7 linked regions of the Homo sapiens genome follow. The protein of the gene in region 1 purifies or fractionates together with the protein of each later gene. This does not show direct contact. Each region holds a gene or a part of one and is shown in the gene's direction. Other genes may lie near its edges.

Evidence for each region.
Region 2: the proteins of TAS2R19 (region 1) and NDUFAF1 purify together in Homo sapiens (affinity purification with mass spectrometry; one large-scale study listed by BioGRID and IntAct). This does not show direct contact.
Region 3: the proteins of TAS2R19 (region 1) and GAP43 purify together in Homo sapiens (affinity purification with mass spectrometry; one large-scale study listed by BioGRID and IntAct). This does not show direct contact.
Region 4: the proteins of TAS2R19 (region 1) and TTYH3 purify together in Homo sapiens (affinity purification with mass spectrometry; one large-scale study listed by BioGRID and IntAct). This does not show direct contact.
Region 5: the proteins of TAS2R19 (region 1) and PAG1 purify together in Homo sapiens (affinity purification with mass spectrometry; one large-scale study listed by BioGRID and IntAct). This does not show direct contact.
Region 6: the proteins of TAS2R19 (region 1) and ABCB1 purify together in Homo sapiens (affinity purification with mass spectrometry; one large-scale study listed by BioGRID and IntAct). This does not show direct contact.
Region 7: the proteins of TAS2R19 (region 1) and SERINC1 purify together in Homo sapiens (affinity purification with mass spectrometry; one large-scale study listed by BioGRID and IntAct). This does not show direct contact.

The regions. Positions count from the first base shown.
Region 1 is NC_000012.12:11,021,119-11,023,857, reverse strand, and holds TAS2R19 (taste receptor type 2 member 19), read left to right. Parts: upstream 1-1,237; 5' UTR 1,238-1,286; coding exon 1,287-2,186; 3' UTR 2,187-2,239; downstream 2,240-2,739. UniProt on the Homo sapiens protein: Receptor that may play a role in the perception of bitterness and is gustducin-linked. May play a role in sensing the chemical composition of the gastrointestinal content.
Region 2 is NC_000015.10:41,386,853-41,389,674, reverse strand, and holds the end of NDUFAF1 (complex I intermediate-associated protein 30, mitochondrial precursor), read left to right. Parts: intron 1-1,152; coding exon 1,153-1,227; intron 1,228-2,081; coding exon 2,082-2,231; 3' UTR 2,232-2,322; downstream 2,323-2,822. UniProt on the Homo sapiens protein: As part of the MCIA complex, involved in the assembly of the mitochondrial complex I.
Region 3 is NC_000003.12:115,679,010-115,682,509, forward strand, and holds part of GAP43 (neuromodulin), read left to right. Parts: intron 1-3,500. UniProt on the Homo sapiens protein: This protein is associated with nerve growth. It is a major component of the motile 'growth cones' that form the tips of elongating axons. Plays a role in axonal and dendritic filopodia induction.
Region 4 is NC_000007.14:2,655,986-2,659,485, forward strand, and holds part of TTYH3 (protein tweety homolog 3), read left to right. Parts: intron 1-106; coding exon 107-199; intron 200-412; coding exon 413-549; intron 550-2,300; coding exon 2,301-2,474; intron 2,475-2,954; coding exon 2,955-3,030; intron 3,031-3,500. UniProt on the Homo sapiens protein: Calcium-independent, swelling-dependent volume-regulated anion channel (VRAC-swell) which plays a pivotal role in the process of regulatory volume decrease (RVD) in the brain through the efflux of anions like chloride and organic osmolytes like glutamate.
Region 5 is NC_000008.11:80,979,569-80,983,068, reverse strand, and holds part of PAG1 (phosphoprotein associated with glycosphingolipid-enriched microdomains 1), read left to right. Parts: intron 1-2,574; coding exon 2,575-2,634; intron 2,635-3,500. UniProt on the Homo sapiens protein: Negatively regulates TCR (T-cell antigen receptor)-mediated signaling in T-cells and FCER1 (high affinity immunoglobulin epsilon receptor)-mediated signaling in mast cells.
Region 6 is NC_000007.14:87,517,385-87,520,884, reverse strand, and holds part of ABCB1 (ATP-dependent translocase ABCB1), read left to right. Parts: intron 1-8; coding exon 9-109; intron 110-1,418; coding exon 1,419-1,559; intron 1,560-3,500. UniProt on the Homo sapiens protein: Translocates drugs and phospholipids across the membrane. Catalyzes the flop of phospholipids from the cytoplasmic to the exoplasmic leaflet of the apical membrane.
Region 7 is NC_000006.12:122,454,808-122,458,307, reverse strand, and holds part of SERINC1 (serine incorporator 1), read left to right. Parts: intron 1-1,657; coding exon 1,658-1,827; intron 1,828-3,500.

The DNA.
Region 1 (2,739 bases):
ATTATGTCTTTGGATTACATTTTTCTAACCTAGGTTTGGTGGATGGCTCTGGTGATTGGAGATGGGCCACGTACTGCATCTTGCCGCTAGTTTGGCTGATTTAGGGTAGATAAGGCAGTGGCATTCTGACTCCATTAGTTTCTCTTTCTTCTTCTGGGAACAGTGTGCTAGCCAGATGATGTCCTCATGGTTAGTGGAAAAGAGCAGGAAACTTCAATATGGAAGCCATCTTAAATCTCTGTAAATTCTACTAATTTCCTGTTGACTGAAGCAAATTACGTGAGTGAATTCAGAGTCCAAGGTCAAGGTAGTCACCCTGCCTGAGGTGGGAGGGTACTGCAGGATTATGTGACAAAGAGTAGGGTACTTAGAAATATTTACAAAATTGCTGAACATTTTAATTAAATAATTAATGTTTAAACAAAACAGACTTGAGTGTAAATATACCAAAGGCCTAAGCTTGAGAAACATGTTTGATAAATATTATTCATTGTCTGACAGCCCTGAGTTGGAAAATAAGACTAATACCACCTGGATGAGTTCCTGGAAACTCATTTTCCATTTGGGGAATTATAAGAAAATAATTCCTTCCATGCCCTAAGGGTGTGAGTGCATGTGTGTCTATGTGTTTAGGAGCTTATTAACAATGATGTCATATCAATTTATTGGTTATCAGAAACCAGATTTTAAAGTGTATCAGCCTCCCAGGGATTTCCAAGATAATCTTGGATGATTTTGATAAAAGGTTTAGAATCTGGTATTTAAATCTGGCATAAAAATAAGTCCATATTGGTATGATCCTAGTTATGACCAAGCTCCTTTAACAATTTAGACATTTACTATATGATATATGTATTGGGTTTTACAATTTCCCTATGGAACAACTGAAGATGCTGTATACAAATTATGGAGAGGTTAAACAAGGAAAAAAATTGCAAAACAATGAAAAATAATATGCCTTTCTTTGCATACTAACACATGAGAATTCATTTTCCACTTCAACCTCAGTATAAAAAAGTACAGCATATAGCAAGGAGAGAATGTATATGAAGAGGAGTGAATTTGAGCTGTTTTGAGAATAATGACCTTTTCTATTTCTATAAAGACAGTTTTGAATTCATCTATTAGCATATGCTGGTGCTTGCCTGTTGACACTAGTCACTGAATTTAAAGGCAGAAAATGTTATTGCACATTTAGTAATCAAGTGTTCATCGAAGTTAACATCTGGATGTTAAAGGACTCAGAACAAGTGTTACTAAGCCTGCATTTTTTTATCTGTTCAAACATGATGTGTTTTCTGCTCATCATTTCATCAATTCTGGTAGTGTTTGCATTTGTTCTTGGAAATGTTGCCAATGGCTTCATAGCCCTAGTAAATGTCATTGACTGGGTTAACACACGAAAGATCTCCTCAGCTGAGCAAATTCTCACTGCTCTGGTGGTCTCCAGAATTGGTTTACTCTGGGTCATGTTATTCCTTTGGTATGCAACTGTGTTTAATTCTGCTTTATATGGTTTAGAAGTAAGAATTGTTGCTTCTAATGCCTGGGCTGTAACGAACCATTTCAGCATGTGGCTTGCTGCTAGCCTCAGCATATTTTGTTTGCTCAAGATTGCCAATTTCTCCAACCTTATTTCTCTCCACCTAAAGAAGAGAATTAAGAGTGTTGTTCTGGTGATACTGTTGGGGCCCTTGGTATTTCTGATTTGTAATCTTGCTGTGATAACCATGGATGAGAGAGTGTGGACAAAAGAATATGAAGGAAATGTGACTTGGAAGATCAAATTGAGGAATGCAATACACCTTTCAAGCTTGACTGTAACTACTCTAGCAAACCTCATACCCTTTACTCTGAGCCTAATATGTTTTCTGCTGTTAATCTGTTCTCTTTGTAAACATCTCAAGAAGATGCGGCTCCATAGCAAAGGATCTCAAGATCCCAGCACCAAGGTCCATATAAAAGCTTTGCAAACTGTGACCTCCTTCCTCATGTTATTTGCCATTTACTTTCTGTGTATAATCACATCAACTTGGAATCTTAGGACACAGCAGAGCAAACTTGTACTCCTGCTTTGCCAAACTGTTGCAATCATGTATCCTTCATTCCACTCATTCATCCTGATTATGGGAAGTAGGAAGCTAAAACAGACCTTTCTTTCAGTTTTGTGGCAGATGACACGCTGAGTGAAAGAAGAGAAACCCTCAACTCCATAGATTCACAAGGGGAGCATCGTGGGTCTTCTAGCAGAAAACAAACTGATGGTGTCTGGAACATTTTATATTTCTATCAGTTTTTCCATAGTGTTTGTATGTGAGTAATTTCAAAACAGATACCTAGAAAAGTCATATATATATTTATGGGTGTATATGTGTGCATGTGTGTGAATAACAACGTTGACCATAAATTATGAAGCTGAGTATATTTCACATATATAGTATTTATATTTTATTATAGTTCATTGTATAGTATTTCATTTGAAGAATTTATTATCTCTCTTTATAATTAAGAACGTACAGCTTTTATGAAGAAATCATTTCTCTTTTCCATTGTAATTTGTACCACATATATGTGCTTAACTATCATTGGTGAACCTCTAATTTTTTGGATGGTAAAGACATTCAATTTTAAATCAATGATAAGAATGGATCTTTGGGGTAGGTTTTATTTCATTATGAATTCTTATTTTATGCTTAGTAGAAAGCAAATAGAATTGTTGTTAGTTAATGATGCACACAA
Region 2 (2,822 bases), on another chromosome or scaffold:
TAGCCTCCTGAATAGCCAGGACTACAAGGATGCACCACCATGGCTGGATAAGTTTTTTGTTTTTTTACTAGAGTCTTGGTTTCACCGTGTTTCCCAGGCTGGTCTTGAACTCCTGGGCTCAGTTGATCCTATTGTGTTGGCCTCCCAAAGTGCTGGGATTACAGGCATGCACAACCAGGCCCAGCCATTTTCTTCCTTTGTTAAACTCAAAATATAAATAAAATTAGCATACTCTGTACCTGTTTTTTGTGTTTTTAAAATTTAGGAATATATCCTGGAGAGCTTCTGTATAATTATTTAGGCAGGGTGTGGTGGTTCATACCTGTAGGCCAAGGTTGGCAGATTACTTGAGCTCAGGAGTTTAAGACCAGCCTGGCTAACATGGTGAAACACCGTCTCTACCAAAAAAAAAAAAAAAAAAAAAATTAGCCGGGTGTGGTGGTGTGCGCCTATAGTCCCAGCTACTCAGGAAGCTGAGGTGGGAGAATCGCTTGAACCTGGGAGGTGGAAGTTGCAGTGAGCCAAGATGGCACCACTGCACTCCAGCCTGGGTAACAGAGTGAGACCCTATCTCAAAACAAAACACAAACAATTAAAGCCAGATATAGTTTTAAAAGATCGTGCTTAATAATAAGTAAATTACATAGAGAAGAAATATGAAAATAAAGTTGATGAATAAAAAGGCACACTTGAAAGTTCAAGAGTAGAAGGAATAGGACATTTCTTTTAGTTCAGTTTCTAATGTAGGAAGGAAGGGAAACGTTAAAATTCTTTTTTCTTTTTTTTCTGAGATAGAATCTAGCTCTATCGCCCAGGCTGAAGTGCAGTGGTGTGATCTTGGCTTACTGCAACCTCTACCTCCCGGGTTCAGGCAACAAAGTGAGACCCCATTCTCCACAGAAAGAAAAAAAAAAAAAAGCTGTGTTTAGGATACTAGTCTTTTTTCCATAAATGTTACAAATATTTTTTTCATAGTTAACCCTTTATCGTTTGGCCTGAGTTATATCTTTGATCCAAATGGCTAGCCATTTGTCATAATACATATATGACATAATTTTAGAATAAATGTAAACTCATTTTATCGTTACAATTACATGCAGATGCCTCAATTGCTTACATTTCAGTTATGAAGTAAATGGTTTCTTCTTTCAGATTCCTTTTTCCAAATTTTTCTTCTCTAATCGAGGAAGAATCCGGGATGTTCAGCATGAGCTTCCGCTTGATAAGGTAACATATTCCTGTATTTTTCACTCAGAACTGTATCATTTTTAATGAATCGGAACTCTGGGGAGACTGAGTTCATTTGAGAAGGCTGGCAGATGAATATTTCTTCTCAGGGCCACTGCTCTTATACCCAGCCAGAGGCTGACTTAGACCTCTCCTATGAACCATACCCCCATCCTGAAGGAATTTTAGAAGGATCATTTTTTAGCATGCCTACATTTTACTTTAGCTATTTTCCCCCCTCCCTTCTCTCCTAATTTAGCTTTAAAATAAGAGTTTATGAACGCTTCAAGGAACTCCATTAGGCATTCATGTCGTCCTTACTAGTCTTTTTGTTTTTTGACATGGAGTCTTGCTTTGTCACTCAGGCTGGAGTGCAGTGGCATGATCTCGGCTCACTGCAACCTCTACCTCCCGGGTTCAAGCATTTCTCCTGCCTCAGTCTCCTGAGTAGCTGGAATTACAGGTGCCTGCCACCACACTTGGCTAATCTTTGTATTCTTAGTAGAGACGAGGTTTTACCATATTGGGCAGGCTGGTTTTTAACTGGACCTTGTGATCTGCCCACCTTGGCCTCCCAGTGTTGGGATTACAGGCCTGAGCCACGACGCCCGGCCGTCCTTCCTAGTCTTAAGTGGCACTACCTAATGAGGAGAGGGGAGGAAGTTGAATGAGGAAAGAAAAGCAGTCTTGTATTTCCTCTTACAGTATGCTATGGGAGAATTAGTAGTATTTGCTAAGGGCTGATAGCATTAAAACCCAGTTATAATCATCACCTGATGGGATTTTAAACTCCTGGAATAATCTCAGTACGTCACTGTATGAGATTTTAATCAATTTCTGTATTTTAAATTTAGATCTCTTCTATAGGATTCACCTTGGCTGATAAAGTGGATGGTCCATTCTTCCTGGAGATAGATTTTATTGGCGTGTTTACTGATCCAGCTCATACAGAAGAATTTGCCTATGAAAATTCTCCAGAGCTTAACCCAAGGCTTTTTAAATAAAGATCATATGGTAGTTTTGTTTTACTAATCTAAGGGTACTAGCATCTACAATGATATAGACAAAATAAAATATTTCTTTAATGGCATCCAACCAATGGCTAGTATGTATTCTCTCTCTTTTTTTTTTTTTTTTTTGAGATGGAGTTCTGCTCTGTCGCCCAGGCTGGCATGCTGGCGTGCAGTAGCGTGATCTCGGCTCACCGTAACCTTCGCCTTCTGGGTTCAAGCTATTCTCCTGCCTCAGCTTCCCGAGTAGCTGGGATTATAGGCATGCACCATCATGCCCAGCTAATTTTGTATTTTTAGTAGAGACAGGGTTTCTCCATGTTGGTCAGGCTGGTCTCGAACTCCTGACCTCAGGTGATCCGCCCGCCTTGGCCTCCCAAAGTGCTGGGATTACAGATGTGAGCCACCGCGCCTGGCTGGCTAGTATGTATTCTCTAAGACAAGTTATAATGCTGTTGCTGGCCAGGCACTGTGGCTCACGCCTGTAATCCCAGCACTTTGGGAGGCTGAGACGGGCGGATCACTTAAGGTCTGGAGTTCGAGACCAGCCTGACCAGCATGGTGAAACCTCGTCTCTACTAAAAA
Region 3 (3,500 bases), on another chromosome or scaffold:
ATTCCCAGGTGCCCTGTACTGCATTTCCTCTGCCTTCCACTGTATTTCATTTTAACCTGGGTTAAAGTAGCAGCATCTTCCACTGGGCTGTACTGTTCGGAAATGGGTGGCTACCATGGGTTGCTTTAGGATTCTACAGCTGCCTGGAGGGGCGTGGACAGACAATCTAAGAGGGTGCAACAGGGTTAAGGGGAAAAATAGGTACAAAGAGAAAATCTAAGAAAATAATTTCTGTGAATATCAGGCTTAAAAATTTTAGATATGATTATTACTTTAATACCTATGGAAATGTTGGGGGAACTATAAATGTTATTTATTTTACTTCTTTTACTATTTACTACCAACCTGTTTGTTATGGGGGGATGTCATTTGTATTTTGATCTTTGAAGTTGGTTGGTTATTGTCATTGTTTTAAATTCTCCAAGTATGTCCACCTCTCCCTAGTTTGCCACGCTGCCTGCCCAGCTTTTTACGTGCCTGGGACCAAAACATTTCAGCGCACCTCTGACAATGATTCCTTTAGAGGAAGAGGAGTGTTCAAAACATCTGTGGGACACTGCCCCATTCAGTCATGAGTAGAGAACTTTGAAGCCCCCTTTAGTGATTATATCCTTGGGGTCTCCTGCTGAGCAGTGTCACTGTGCTCATTGGCTCTCAATGAAGGAATTCTCTCTTACGTCTCCTCTTCTCCATGGTAGCCTATTGATTTTCCCCAGTAGAGGACTCTGCTGTGGTCATATTCAGTGATGTGGTACAACCAAGGTAACCTATCCAGAGGGCTATCAATCAGTGATATTGATTGGGTGGCTGCCACAGGGTCTTTGACTGATGCTAGTTGGAAGTGTAGCTCTGAGTGACTTTAAATGTTCTGTATGTTGATCTTGGCTGCATTTTATTTTCATGGTCTCAGTACATCTTGCAAATTGATGCCATCAGTAATGATCAAGAAAAGAGGGAGGAGTTTCCTATTGCCATTCCCTGAATAGAAAAATTAACTTAGTGTCTCCCTGCTTCTCTTCCTCCTCTTTTTTATCCTTCCTTCCTCCCTCCTTCCTTCCCATTCTGTCTCCTTCTTTTCTATTCTTCCTTTCTTTTTCCCTTCCCTTTATATTAACTTTCTTCTGTGCTAGGTATTGGAGTCACAAAGATGAATAAGATATGATTTTTTGTCCAGGTGCGGTGGCTCATGCCTGTAATCCCAGCACTTTGGGAGACCGAGGCAGGAGGACTTGAGTCCAGGAGTTTGAGACCAGCCTGGGCAACAGAAGGAGACCCCATCTCTACAAATAATAAATAATTAGCAGAGTGTGGTGGTGTGTGCCTGAGGTCCCAGCCACTCTGGAGGTTGAGGCAGGAAGATCACCTGAGCCCGGGAGGTCAAGGCTGCAGTGAGCCATTATTGTGTGCCATTGTACTCCAGCCTGGGTGACAGAGTGAGACCCTGTCTCAGAAAAAGTAAACCAAACCAAAACAAAAACAAGATGTACTCTTTTGACCTTAATGAATTCTTACTTGGTATGGGGGTAGTATGAAATTCAGGGAATGACATTGAAAACAATCATATTCATAATCTCAATTAAATTCTGCAGTTAGGTACAGGGCACTTCCCTATGCCAATGCACTTTGGACAAAATATGAATGAGGCAGTGCTTCAGGGGCTAAGATGCAGTCTGCTGCTTACTATAAAAACGTTGCATATAATGTATGTCCTGATACTCAAATTATTAACGAAAAGAATAGATGCAAAATTTAGAATTTCTAGAATGATAATTGTGTATAAGAAAATGAAATACCCAGCTCATATTTCTGAATTTAAAAAATTATTTATGTTTCCCAGAACAATATTTTCCCTAAGACCCAAGGTAACCATCTATTTTTCAGCTTTCCAAAAGATAGGTCCACTTCTACCAAGCTGTGTGTTAGATGTGAGATTTTCCAAGGATATTTACACTTATTTGGCAGGGTGCCTCGTGAGCGGCTTTGATTTGAAATGTGGTTTCAACCACTTCCTAAATTTATACACAACTCACAAAGAATGAAAATTTTGGTTGTGGAAGTCCATAAATGCTGTTTATAAAACATGGGCACCCTGTCAGATACTCAGTGGTATACCTCTTAAATACTGTTGATTATTAAGCTTTTATGGAGCACTTTTATATTGCTAGAGTAATCATTTTTATTGGCTTTTCTTGACAACAGCCCAATGTCATTTGATAATATTTTTCTTTCTATTTTTATATTCCAAGAATAGGGACAAAGTAAATGGATATTCTGGCCACAAATACAGCCAGTGACAAAATGAGGATCAAACTGATTGAACTCTAAATCCTCACCTTAACTGTAGCCCTACAGTTCTTTCTCTCTATTAAGGTGTTATGTTTTGTCTCAGTTTCTGCATTTTCTTTTTTATCTTAGCTGTTGTTGTGATCTGATGCTTTTGGGAAATACCAACCAGGACCTTACTAGGATATTCTCTGTCCTACCTGCCTTGTAATATAATGCAGGGAAAAGATCTTTGAACTGAAATAAAGAGACCAGGGTTCTAGTCTCAGTATTTCTACCAACCAGATTTTAGGCAAGTTATTGCTTCTCTGGACCTCATTCATCTCATCCTTAGGAAAAGGGACTACGATAGTTGGTTTTTAAGGTTTTCTTTCAAGAGTTAACATATAAAAGTCTAATAATAGGTAGCACTTAATGAGCATTTATTAACTGCCAGGTCCTGTGCTGAGTGCTATGTGGGGATTGTTCCATTTAATCATCATAACCACTCTGTGGTAGTAATGTAGTAGTGTAATTTTCCCTTCCCTTTTTACAAGGAGAAATCTTAGCTTTAGGGAGACTATGGGACTTAATCATTGTTGACAGCTAGCAATGTTGAACCAGAAGCCAAACCCTGAGAGTCTGAGAGGTCACATGCTGAACCCTGACACTTATCCAAGTGCTATTCTGGAAGAAACAAAGAGGAGAGGAATGTCTAAGGACCCCAACAATGTGTTATAATATAAGAACATCTCTCTTCTTTGGATAATTGGATATTCCAGACTCTTGTCTGGGAATTATTAGGGATAGCATTTACAGATGGGTGTCTAGTAACTACTATAATTCCTGATCATAATTCCCTCACAGCCCTATCACCCCAGAATTATTAGGGATATTAAACTGTTTCTGAGTCTTAGATTCTTATTTCAAAAATGCTCCAAGTACTGTTTTATTAGACCTGAGAGAGCTATAAAGATCAGCTGAAAATGATTGTTCTTAACAGATGTATTACTGACTCCATCAAATACATCAGTTATGCCAGGAGGATCTGAAAACTAGAAATGGAAATTTTCATATCTCAATCAGATGAAAGTCATTTTATTTATTGTAGGCAATTGCTACCCTAAGTTTAGCTTATCAGAATCAGTATCTTTTTTATATTCTTGCTTAGGTCTACCCCCCTTTGGCAAGTGCATTTCCAAAGGATCTGGTACCTTTATAACTAAAATATTAAAGAA
Region 4 (3,500 bases), on another chromosome or scaffold:
GATTATGGGCTGGAGGGAGACCTGGGGGCTTCCCAGATGGGGCGAGGCTGGCTCGAGGTCCCCCGTCCAAATGAAGTGCTGACCATCTGCGGTGCGTGCCCCCCAGGACCCCCTCCTCCGCGTCCAGGAGGTGCTGAATGGCACGGAGGTGAACCTGCAGCACCTCACCGCCCTGGTGGACTGCCGCAGCCTGCATCTGGTGAGAGGCAGGGCCTGGGACAGGGCCATGGCAGCTTGTAGGGTGGGAACAGGGGAGCAGCTGTTCGGGAGGATGGGGACCCTCAGCAGACAGTGGGTCCTCAGCCCTGCCTCTGGGGGGCGGTCCAGGCCGCCGTGGCTGGGCTGAAGGTCTCACGCTGCCCCCTCCACCCTCCCTGTCTCTGGATCCTGCCATCTCATCCCACGGCCTCAGGACTACGTGCAAGCGCTGACCGGCTTCTGCTATGACGGCGTGGAGGGCCTCATCTACCTGGCCCTCTTCTCCTTCGTCACAGCCCTCATGTTCAGCTCCATCGTCTGCAGCGTCCCGCACACCTGGCAGCAAAAGAGGTGAGGGGCCCTGGGGGGTCGCAGGAGCTTGCCCCAGGCCACATGGCATGCGGGACACTTCAGGGGCATGCCTTTATGGACACCCATGTGCCAGTCCCAGAGGTGAGGGACAGACACCTCCTCACCTCGTGACCCTCCCTAGGCCTCTCTAGTGTCTCTGAGGCTGCCGGTTCCCAGGTGAGCATCATCATTTCACAGGAGGAAAACAGCCTGGAGGAGCTCCCGGCCTGGGTTGCAGGAGTCCAGAGCAGACAGTGGGGAGGACTGGGGTCTCTTGCCTCCCCAGACTGGCTCTGTGCCCTATGCCCTGAGAGCTGGCCTCAGACTGTCTACTCTGTACCGCCTCCCAGGCAGGTGTCCCCCACCATGGGGTGCAGGTGCACGACGCTGTGGGGGAAAGGTTGGTGGTCCACTGTGCAGGCTTAGCTCTGCCAGGGGTAGTCCAGGTAGCTGTGGCCTCCAGCTAAGTGACCAGGATAGAAGCCAGCTCCCCTGGAGCCACTATGTCCTTACCTTTGAAGTGGGGGTCCTGGTGGCCCCTGCCTGAGTCTTCCCATTCAGTACTGGTTTGAGTGGTGTATTGGGGTGACAGGCTCCTTCCCTTGCCAGAGCTCCTATGGCTTATCTTTGAGACCTTCACCTCCTCTCCCACTTGGACTGTGGCTGCTGCTTGGTGGCCCAATATGGATGGCAGGTAGCTCAGCTCAGATTTCTTCCTTTTGTCTGGATTTCTATTATTTTCCTTTGTGATGGTGATGGTGATGCTGCCAACGATGATGGTGATGGTGATGGTGGTAATGATGGTGATGGTGATGGTGGTGATGATGGTGATGGTGGTGGTGATGGTGATGATGGTGATGATGGTGGTGGTGGTTGTGGTGGTGGTGATGGTGATGGTGATGGTGATGTCATTGTTGATGTTGGTGATGGTGATGGCATTGGTGATGTCGGTGATGGTGGTGGTGATGGTGTCAGTGGTAACAAAGATGGTAGACATAGGGGAGTAGATAAGAGCATAGCCCTGGACCCACAGGGCTAGATTCAGATTCTGTCTCTATCCTTGCTTATTGTATGATGTGGGCAAGTCACTTAACCACCCTGGGCCTCAATTTCCCTCATTGTAAGAGGACACAGCTGGAGTGTCGAGTGGGCACTTGAGCCACTGCACGTGAGGGGCTTGGCTGGTGGCCCCTGCGCAGCCAAAAGCTACCACTGTCCTGTTTCTGAAGTGCTTGCTGCCAGGCAGCCCACCCTGTGTCCCATGTGGGACCTCCTGGGGCGTGGAGGCTCCAAAGTGCCAGAGGCTCGCGCAGAGTGGAAGACAGAAAGCCAGAGGGCAGCAGGGCTAGGAAAACTGGCTCAGGCCACCCAAGGGTGCAGTTGGATCCTGCAGAGCCAAGAGGCACCCCAGCCTCCTGTGCCTTCAAGAGGCACCCTGGCCTCCTGCACTCTCCCAGGAGGGGCCCTGCACTCTTCTTTCAGTAAGCAGCCAGCCAGCCTTGCCATGCACAGGCCGCAGTACAGGGCCTGGCACTCGGGTGACCACACAGGTCTCATAGCACCCCACCTCGCAAGGGCAGGGCTGGATGCAGAGCCAGGTGACCTGCCCACAGTCCCACATGGAGTGTGCACACGGCCGAGCCAGAACTGGAACCAGGAGTGTCTGTCTGCACCAGAACTGACCCCCATGGGTCTGTGGCCAGCTCCTTCCTGCTGGGGCCTGAGCCCGTGCTGCGTGTCCCTCCTCACAGAGGCCCTGATGAGGACGGGGAGGAGGAGGCCGCTCCAGGGCCGCGGCAGGCGCACGACAGCCTCTACCGCGTCCACATGCCCAGCCTGTACAGCTGTGGCAGCAGCTACGGCAGTGAGACCAGCATCCCGGCCGCGGCCCACACCGTCAGCAACGCCCCGGTCACTGAGTACATGTGAGTTGACGTGGGCCTAGTGGGGCCAGCGGACACGTCAGCTGCGGCTGAGAGCGCGGATCTGGGCTGGGGCTAGCTCGAGGCAAGGGGCTGGAGAAGGGGCGGCCTCCGGGCTGGGCAGCCCTGGCCTTGAGTGCCTCCTGCCCCAGGTGAACACGGTCCAGGGGCCATGGAGAGGCCACATGGTCACATGGAGGTTCCGTGTCCAGGGCACAAGGACTCTGTGGCCAAGGACCTCAGGGCCCAGCTACATGGTGAACAGGTGGCTCGGAGGGAGTGGACTCTGGCTGGGCCAAGGTGGGCAGGGGTCTCTCTGTGGGCCCTCTCTGAGCCCTTTGTTACTGTGCTGGGTTCGTGGGACCCCCAGTGAGAATGGATGTGCCCATCTGGGCACAGCGGGCCTACCCATGGGCCCCCCGACCTGCAGCTGGGACTGCATGGCCAGCAGGCACTCACAGCCTCTCTCCCCTCATGCCTCAGGAGCCAGAACGCTAATTTCCAGAACCCCCGCTGTGAGAACACCCCACTCATTGGGCGCGAGTCCCCGCCGCCCTCAGTAAGTCTTGGGGCAGGAGGGTGGATGGGGGGCTGCTCAGCCTTGGGGGTCCGCTGTTCCACTGCGTCGGTGGGCTGGTGTGGCATGTGCAGCCAGTGTGAGCTCTGGGGGCAGCTGTGAGCTGCCACCACCGGGGTCCCAGGTGACCCTTCCCAGCTGGGACCTCTCTGCAGGACGCCTGACCTGAGTTGACGGGGCTGGGTGGGACTGCCAGCTCCTCCCCGCTGGCCTTGGAGTGTCCTGGGGCCAGAGTGGGCAGCCTCGGGACCAGCCGCCCAGGGGGTCAGCTCTCAGGCCCTTTCCTGGGGAAGGAGAGTGGGTGGGCGGGCAGATGTGGCCCCACTGTGGCCCTCCCAGCTTGTAGGCACGGCCCTGCACCAGGCCCTCCCTGGCCTCTTACCTGCCATTCTCTGTGCCTTCTGGACCTGTGGGGTGCCACCGCTCCAGTTCCCAGGGGCCCCGGCCCTGCC
Region 5 (3,500 bases), on another chromosome or scaffold:
ATGGCCTTGGCTTATAGTCTGAACACTAATAATGTCACTAGAGTCCCGAGCAGCAGAATGGCACAACCTAGCCTATGTTTTCAAAGGATCCCTCTGACTCCAGTTTTGAAATAAAGGGTAGAAGTGAGGAGAACAATTGGGTAGTGACTCTAATAAACCAGATTAGAAATGGCGGTGGCCTGGATCAGGGAAGAGGCAGCAGAGGTGATGAGAAAAGCTAAGCCAGAGCCAAGAGATTTGCGGATGGATCCTACGCTTAGTGAGATAAAGAAGAGGCAGTGATGAGTACGAGGCTGGGCCCAACATGTGGGAAAGATTGAATTGCCATTAACTGAAATGAAGAGGATACAGGCAGAGCAGGTTTTGGGGGGAGAACCAGCAGTCAGTGTTGGGTACGTTCAACTTGAGATACCGATTGGACTTCCAAGTAGAGCTTATCAGATGGTAGCTGGATTGATGAGCCGGGTAAAGAGGAAAGGCCAGGGCTGGATTTGCTGATGTGGGAGTCATCCACAGAATGTGGTTTTAAAAGTCATGAGATTGGGTGAGGTCACAGGATAGGTGAGTGTAAATAGAGCCTGGAAGAGCTCCAAGAATAGAGATCTGGAAAAGGAACCAGCAGAAGAGACCAAAGTAGGAAACAAAAACAGGAAAGTTGTGGAGTCCTGGAAGGCAGTGAAGAACGTGTCCAGGAAGGAAGGAGTGGCGGGCCGCTCTGCCAAATGCAGCGGGTAGGTCAGGGAAGGCGAGTCTCATTGGTGCCCTTGACAAGAGCAGTCTCTGTGGAATGGTAGAGGCAGAAACATGACTGAAATGGATTAGAAAGAGAATAGGAAGAGAAAAATTGTTCGGTTGACTTTTTAGACCACTCTTTAAAAGATTTTGCTATAAAGAAGTGAGACAGGCTGGGCGCAGTGACTCATGCCTGTAATCGTAACACTTTGGGAGGCCGAGGTGGGTGGATCACTTGAAACCAGGTGTTTGAAACCAGCCTGGGCAATGTAGCAGCACCCCGTCTCTACAAAAAATACAAAAATTAACTGGGCATGGTGGTATGCACCTGTAGTCCCAGCTACTTGGGAGGCTGAGGTGGGACAATGGCTTGAGCCTGGGAGGTCAAGGCTGCAGTGAGCCAAGATCACGCCACTGCATCCCAGCCTGAATGGCAGAGTGAGACGCTGTCAAAAAAAAAAAAAAAAAAAAAAAGGAAGTGAGATAATGAGTAGGTAGAATTTCGGAGTAGGACTAGGTTTGTTTTGGTTTTAGAATGAGAGAAACAACAGCATGTTTGCATGTGGCTGGGAATGATCCCACACTGGGAGAATTCCTGGCTCAGTATTCACACATAGGTATGTGGAGACAGGGTCTAGTGTGTAGGAAGGAGGGGATCACCTGAAGGAGGAACATGGAAAATCCATTTGACAGGGAGGAAAGAAAATAGATTAACGCAGAGGCTGAGGGTGGGGCTAAGAGTTGATACAAATTTCTTCTGATTCCTTCAGTTTTCTTAGCCAACTAGGAAGCAAGATCATCTGCTCAGAGTGAAGATAGGTGAGGAGGTGTTGGAAGTCTGGGGAGAAGAGGAGAAGATGCAAAGTAGACTGTGAGTTGAGCAGAGACTGAGTATACTGGGGAAGCATCGGATGATACGGAGCGGCTTTAAGGGCTCACTAGAGGGTTGAGTTCACGTATGATTGGCAGTTGACTATGGAGCTTAAGCTTAGTAAAGCAGTACAGGACACCAAGGAGAAGGGCAGACTTTGAAAGCATGAATGGGTCCCAATGGTGTTGAAGGAGCATTGGAACTGGGTTACAGAAGGAGTGAGCTTTGACAACGAGCGCTGGTCTGAAAGGGGTTGCAAGGACTTGGGCTGGTGGAGAGGCTGTGGTTTAGAAAGGCCTGGGGTGCAGCCATGAGGGTGCTGAGGCCGGGGGTGGACATGGAGAGGGGACACAGATAGAGCATAAAATCAGTGGGGGAAGGGAAAGTCAAGGAACTGAAGGGCGGGATTTAGAAGGGTACACGTTTGTTGAGGTCACCAAAAATTAAGACAAGGGATGTGTTAGAGAATCAGTAAACCAAGAGCCAAAATCCTTCAGAAATCAGGCAGGGGGCAAGACACAAAATGTGAGTCAGTTTCTCCATTAGCTTTGAAGTTTCCAAATGACTTAAGGATCTTTCTGATGACGCCAGCAAACTGTAGAAGTATAAAATTCAGGCATTTGATAAAGAAACACCATGTTTTTAAATATTAATCCTCCATGGATGATCAATCCTTCAGTGACAATTAGGAATTGAAACAGTAGTCTAAATAATTATTTTGGCTTCTTTGTACCTACAGATGCAAATACAAAATTAGAGGAAATTTCTCTAAGGATAATACTACTAGATATCCCCGAACATCATACATGTGGTAATAGATTGCATAAGTGTTTCTCTTCCCATAATTTCTTCGTGGTTCCATAAAAATCATTTGAAAACGTTGCTAGACAGATTATGAGGAAACATGTGCAAAAGAAAGGTTAGATTGTTAACGCTGAATTACTTTCCTTGGCTTGTGTTTGTTCTGACAGAGATTTAGCTCATTGTCATACAAGTCTCGGGAAGAAGACCCCACTCTCACAGAAGAAGAGGTAAGTTTTGTTTCTTTTTAAAAAGGGAAAACTGTAGTAAAGAATAGACCTTCCCCCCTTGAATAAATGCACTGTAATGTTACCCTTTGAAAGAGCTGAAATATTCTCCTATGCCTATGTTTGGAGATGAAGACTTGGGATGCTGGTTTTATAATGGCTTGGAGAGACTGACGGGCAGGCCAGACAAGAAGGATGGCAGGACAAGTAGTCAGCTCAGGAAAAGAAACTGAGCAGGAAAGCAGGGTCAGGAAAAATAGAGAGGGCAGGGGAGAAGAGTGAGAAGAGAAAAATTCCAGCGTGGGAGCAGTCAGCAGTCAGGAAGACCACATCAGAAGGAAATGAATCATGGGTTGGAAAATTCAGGAAATTAGAACAGGTGAGTGTAGGGAATTTGCTCCAGCCTGGGAGACAGAAAGAGGAAGTCTCCGTGGGGAAATTTGGATGCTGAGAGCAGATTAACTTCAGTAAGTACAGTTCCAGGCAGGAGCTAGGGTCAGACATAGCAGCCAACAAGAGCAGATCGCATATTCCCAAGCACCAGGGTGCAAAATTCACGAGTTAGATTTTCAATGAAGCATTAAAATTGTTAAAGCCAGTATTATACATATAATATGAAATATGTGTATATATACATATTTCATATGTATATATATAAATGTTGAGCTATGCTCAGAGAGCTAAACACCTTAATTGATCTAGCTGTATATAGCTTCTATCTGGAATTCCTAGCAGAGTAAATTGTGTACATGTACAAGAGCAAAGTACATATGCAGGTACATCACTTCCTATAGGACTCTGAGTAAAGCATTAGAATATGGACATAGACACCCACGTTGAATGTTCAAAGAGCAAAAATGCTTTCCCTA
Region 6 (3,500 bases), on another chromosome or scaffold:
TGTTACAGATCGCTACTGAAGCAATAGAAAACTTCCGAACCGTTGTTTCTTTGACTCAGGAGCAGAAGTTTGAACATATGTATGCTCAGAGTTTGCAGGTACCATACAGGTAATAACCGCTGAAGAGTGGGAGGAGAGTGTGAATAATTTTTCAATCATCATATTTGTTTTCAGAGGGATTACTTTGGCTAGAAGGTAGGGAGCAAGTGGAGAAAGTGCTCGAAGGTAAACCATTGAGAAACAGTTGTAATTATGCAGGAGAGAAAGTACAAGACCCTGAACTAAGGCAGGGACATCTCTGAGGTAGAACCTGTAAGAATGGGTCACTGATGAGAAGGGAGGGAGACATGATGCTGAGAATGACTATCTGATGTCCAGGTAGGATATGACCCTATAATTTGCTCTAGTTGAAAATGAGTTATTTATGGAACCTGAAATTTGAGGTACCTGTGGGACACAGAGAGGATGGTGCTTCCTGGGTTTACCTGTCTTTCTGCTTTTTACCCCTTCTCCAGTGCAGACCTTCTTCCTTTAATACAGTCATCCCAGTGAGGGCTCTAATAAGTGGTGTGAACATAAGCAAGCCCAACCTTTCTGAGTCTGTTTCTTATAATAAAAGGAAAGCTGGACTTTATTGATGGATTTTTAAGCTTTTATTTAAAAAAAATGATGGTAGAGCCTTTTTGTCTAAAAAAAAATTATTTGAAATCTTCATATGTGATGAAGGTAAAAGCAGAGTTGATCTGGTAGCAGGAGGGGTTGGAAGCCCAGGGCTGCCCACTTGCTAACCTGCCCCCACCCACACCTCCATATCACTGAGCTGGATCCATATCATGATTCTAGAATGTCAACCCCTTTTTAAAGCCTTCTCTGAGACCCCCGAAGAATTTAGTGCTTCTCCTTTCTTCCTATAACAGATTATTCATAAGGCACCTCTAATGCATAAATAGTAATTCAACTCAAGTCAGGTCTCCTAAGTCAAGAACATGCCTGTTTCCTCTATGTCAACCCATCATGGCCCCTGCACCTTGTAGGTGTTGGGTAACTGTGTGCAGAATGAATATTTACGTAGAGTACTTCCATACTGTGTGTCCAAAAGTGGGGAGAAAGGGAGATAACTTTTACTTATTGATCCCTAACCGGCTCTTTACAGTCATTGGATTATTTTCTCTTTACATCAACACTTTGAGGTGTAGTTAATTCTACATTAAAGATAAAGACACTGAGTCTCAGAGGTTAGGCAGTTTCCCAAATTTGCACAACTGTTAAGTGTAAAGTGAGGACCAAACTTAGTTCTTTGGAAACGAAACCCATTTTTGTTGGTCATGCCTCTGTGCCCTACTGCCAACCTATCAAAAGTTACATTTTAAGGACTGAGAAATGAAAGTGGAATGAGTTTTCAAATGTCTTCTTTTCAGAAACTCTTTGAGGAAAGCACACATCTTTGGAATTACATTTTCCTTCACCCAGGCAATGATGTATTTTTCCTATGCTGGATGTTTCCGGTTTGGAGCCTACTTGGTGGCACATAAACTCATGAGCTTTGAGGATGTTCTGTTGTAAGTATTGGGCTATTATTTAGTTAAGCTCTAAAAATAAAGCTGGGATGAACATGCTTCATGTCTAGATAGGAAACCCTACTGTGAAGCCTCATGAAGAGATTCTGGTGATTCCTAAATCGGCATTTCTGCCTCTGAGTCTTCATGTGCCACCATTGAAGCACCCCCTTTCATTTGGAGGAGCAGTAACTTCTTTCCTCATTGCTGGCTCACACATAGTTGACCTTTTCAAATCTGTGACTGAGTGGAGTGATTCCATTCGGAGATTTTGAGAAGGCCTTGGCATTTGGGAAGAAGCCTAGCCCTGAGCAAGGAGTCTGACTGGCTCCTTTTAAAGGACTTTCTTACAGAGCAAGTAAAATACAGATGTGTTGTACTAAGTTCTGCAAGCCTTTGGCAATTCCAGGATATGTTTACTTTCCCTTGATAAGAGAGGAATTGGAAGGTAAGAGCCAAATGAATTCAGAAATGACAAAGGAAAAGTTATATTGGGATTTTTCTGCTACATTGTTCTGAATGTAGATAATTGTACCTCGGTCAGAGGAAGATAAGCCTGAAGCAATTATACTACAAAAGTACCCAAATATGCAATTTGGTGGTCAAAAGTATGTGTAATCTTTCTGAGCTTCTAGATTTGGAGGTGGGTAAGATTCTGCCTCTTGATAGCATAACATAATTAGTAGCGATATAATTTTATATTTAAACCAGAATCATATAAGCCTGGCAGTATAATGTGTTAGTATAGTATTTCTGTCCTTTTTAAACATTGAGTTGTTCATGCATTACAGTTTGCTCAGGATGACCCCCAAAAAGACATCTAAATTTCCATTAAAGATGTACATTGGACAAATGATATGCAGGTGCTATTTGTGATTATGGCCTAGAGATCAAAACCAAGTATCACTGGCATTGGGGCTTTGATTAGATAATTATTTGATATATTGCTTTACTCCAAAAAATTGAATTGATGAAAGTTGCTGACATTGGGGCATTTAGGTTTGCAAAATCAACCTTCCAAGTTAAGGAAAAGGAAGACCTGTCTGAAGAACAGTGCATTAGAAAAAGGTCCCATAGGTTTAAATGATCACAAGTCCAAGATTAACTATCGGTATTTTATTTAGTGCTAGTTAAACAAACAAACAAACAAAAACTAATGACACAATATGCTACACAAACATAGGCATAGAGTCCAGAGGAAAGAAAGCGATGAATTCCCTGTATTCTGGGCGGGTTCCCAAGTATTATGTCTGTTCCAGGCTTGTGTTTAAAAAAAGCATATTAATAAATGTGTCTAGAGAAGGGCAGTGAAAGGAGTTATCAAAGAAGCAAAGGAGTTTTTAGCAATATTTCAAGACTTGTAGGCCTGTCTTATGTAAAAGGAAGTAAATTTTTTCTTCAGTTTGAAAAAGAACTGTTTAACAATAGACAATCAAACATGCTACTTCCTAAAACAGAGGATGGAAGCCAATTTAGGGGAGGTGTCCAGGCACGAACATGGAGAGCTGGACTTGATACCTGTAAGGTCCTTCCCAACTTTAAGTTGCTGTGATTCCCATGTCATAGATAAGAACGTCAATGCATCTTAAGAGCAACATGATATCTGGCTCTGTAAGAAACTTTCTTTTGGTTGCACAATTCATAGGTTTTTAAGAATCTGATGTAATTCCAACATCACTGACTGTATCCGTTGTTGATTACCACAATAATGCTGTGTAACAACCAGCCACTAAACCTCAGAGACATACATATTTTTGCCCACAAACCTATGGGTTAGCTGTGAAGTTCTACTGATCTGGATTAGGCATAGTGGATCTCGGCTGGACTTACTCATGTGTCTGTAGTGGATTGTGTCTGTAGCTGGTTGGTTGGGATTCAGACAGCTCTCCTCCATGTGTGCCTCATCCTCCAGCAGGCTATCCTGGGTTTGAGACAGTGGCAGAA
Region 7 (3,500 bases), on another chromosome or scaffold:
CAGAAAGAAGTATAATTCTAACCAGGTGTCAGAATCTCAATGGGTCATGGAAAAAAGGATGTTCTAAGAATGATTAGAACTTGCATATACAGAGATTGAAAAATAGAAAGCATAATGAGTATAAAAGAGCTTTTCAAGCAAAGTATCTATACTTTAGGAAGATTAATCTTACAATTAATAAAGTATAAAAGTCAAGCAGTTAAATATGGAGGCTGTTGCAGTGGTATAATCAAGAAGAGAATAGCGGACCTGAAATAAGATTTTCTGGATGTAAAATTGACTGAGCCTAGCACTGAAATATTGGCAGTGATATGGAATCATAAATAACAACCAGGTTCTGGTCCTACAAAACCGGGAGGAAAGTATTGCTATTAACCTAGAAAGGAAAATTTTTAGAGAGAGTCAGGTTGTGGAAGGAGATTGGGAACACATAATAAATTTAGTTTCTAACATGTTGACTTGGTGGTATTGTATCGTGTACATGTATATATATATATATATATGTATGTCTTACTCAGTTCAGGCTGCTATAACAAGAATATCATAGGCTGGGTGGCTTAAGACAACAAAAATTTATTTCTCAGTTTTGGAGGCTGAAAGTCCGAGATCAGGGTGCCACCATGGTCAAGTTCTGATGAGGATCTTATTCCTGGTTTACACATGGCCATCTTACATTTTTGAAAGAAAGCAGCAGCTCTCTTCTGTCTGTTTTTATAAGGGCATTAATCCCATCCTGAGGGCTCTACCCTCATGATTTAATTACCACATAAAGGCCCTATCTCCCACTATCCTCCCATTGAGGGTTAGAGTTTCAGCATTTAATTTTGGGTAGACACAAACACGAAGTCCATAATAATATACAGCAGTAAGTAGAAAACATGAAGGAATTTAAAAGAGAAATCAGAGCTAGAGACTGCCTTGAGGATAGAAATTGAATGTTGAAACCATGGCAGCGTATGCTGAAGATCATTCAGAGTGAGCAGAGCTAGAACTCTGCCAAAATCTCTTACTTAAGGGAGTTAGTGGAGAAAGGAAAACCTGATTCTGATCCTAGAAAACTGGGAGGGAAGGGATAACAGAAAAGAACAAAGAAAATGTATAGGTTCTAGGAAGAAAGTTTTAAGAATGACAGGGATAGTGTCTATATAAAAATGAGATTAAGGAATGTGATTAAGCAGTAGCCTTTGGGTTTGGAAACCAGTACATGACTAGTATCCTGGAAAAGCAGTTTTTTTAGAGTGCTGGGACTGGAAAGAGTGGGAGGAAATAATTTATTCTTATATATATGAATAATAGATGTATTAATAGTTCTGAACAGTAGTCTCAGAAATAGCACTTACACTACTAAAACAAGTCTATCGTGCTATTCAAGTAGAATGCAAGTTTTTAAAATGTAGGATAAATCTATAACTCAAAATAAGCAACCAGCATAGAGTTGGTATTGTAGTTTATGATTTGCGCAGATGGGGATTTAACTCTTTTTTCCCCACTGTATGTGATTAAAATGTATCAGACTCATCTTGAGTACATATTCATCATAAATTGTAAAGCAAATGCCAGTTTTCTAAACCTTTACTTAAACTATTTGATTACATGTAATTTTTATTTTTACTTAATGAAAAAAAATGATGGATCATAAACTCTTTTGTTTTTCTAGATTCCTGGATTTTGTGAGAATGAGAAAGGTGTTGTCCCTTGTAACATTTTGGTTGGCTATAAAGCTGTATATCGTTTGTGCTTTGGTTTGGCTATGTTCTATCTTCTTCTCTCTTTACTAATGATCAAAGTGAAGAGTAGCAGTGATCCTAGAGCTGCAGTGCACAATGGGTAAGTTTTTAAATAAGCTTCAATATAAAAGCTTGGGTAGCCTCTTCTTGATAATTGCCAGTTTATCCAAGGAAACTTTAAGGTAAAATAAACTTATACAATTTGCAGAATTACTTTATTCATGAATGACAGGATAAGAAAATCTTGTTTTTACTGGAGAATGTCAGACTTTGGATATTAAATAATAGCTGTGATAACCTCTGATCCACAGTGTTTTATATTTTCATACTAAAAAAGAGGCTCTATTATATTTGTGACTACTAAGGGAATAGCTATTTCTCCTTCTACTGTTAACTTTAGGTGGACCAGTCCACTTACATAGAACTCTCAGTTCCCTAGACCCAGAGAGCAGATTTTTCTAGGTTGGTTGTATTGGACAACCCAGAAAGAAACTTCAGGGTTTCTTTTATCAATCTTCCTTCATATAGAGCACTACTTCTGGTACCCTTATTTGACTGTTTTAATATCTGCTGTTGCTTATCTAGTTATATGTGCTACCAAAGACAAAAAGTATAAACAAGTAGAATATAAATATTAATGAGAAAATATGTGACGGGTTGCTTTTCCTTTATTTTGTTCCTTTGGTCATTGATTATTTTATTAAATTATTAGAGTTTTAGATGGAGGCATTTATCATGTGTTTATAAAAACTATTCATTTATACAGTTCACCTTATACTTTGATACATTATCCCACTTATGTGAAATAAGCCTGTGAAATGGAACTAACATTCTCATTTTTCCATAATGAATTAGTGAGAAATACATCTTTCTCAAAATGGTCTTAAAAGCAGTTTATGTAATTGTTGTTTTTTCTGATAATCAAGTGTATTAGGGTTCTCTAGAGGGACAGAACTAATAGGATAGATAGATATATATAAAGGGGAGTTTATTAAGTATTATCTCACATGATCTCAAGGTCCCACAATAGGCCATCTGCAAGCTGAGGAGCAAGGAGAGCCAGTCCTAGTCCCAAAACTGAAGAACTTGGAGCCTGATGTTCAAGGGCAGGGAGCATCCAGCACAGGAGAAAGATGTAGGCTGGGATGCTAGGCCAGTCTAGTCTTTTCACTTTTTTTTTTTGCCTGCTTTATATTCTAGCCCTGCTGGCAGCTGATTAGATGGTGCCCACCCAGATTAAGGGTGTGTCTGCCTTTCCCAGCCCACTGACTGAAATGTTAATCTTCTTTGGCAACACCCTCACAGACACACCCAGCATCAGTACTTTGCACCCTTCAATCCAATCAAGTTGACACTCAGTATTAACCATTACAAGTCAGTACTTTGCATCCTTGAATTCAATTGACACTCAGTATAACTATCAGAAGTCTACCCATTGTCAACTTGAACCCGTATACATCTCCTGAGATCATACATAATCTGCAAATAAAGACAATAATAAGGTCATACAACTAACCTTACAACTGAAAACGCACCAGTCCCCAACCAAAATACTAATTACATAAAGTTAACAATACTTAAATGCTGATGTGAAGTCAGTAAATCTTATGTCACATGATAAAGGAGAATGGAAATAAAATGAAGATATTTTCTTAGTACAAGTATATGCATGCATGAACATGTTTTTGACAAAACAAGGAGGAAGTACTCACAACAATTACAGCCCTCGTTTCTGCAGCTGGACATGTGGTCATAGCTGGTATTGATGACTGC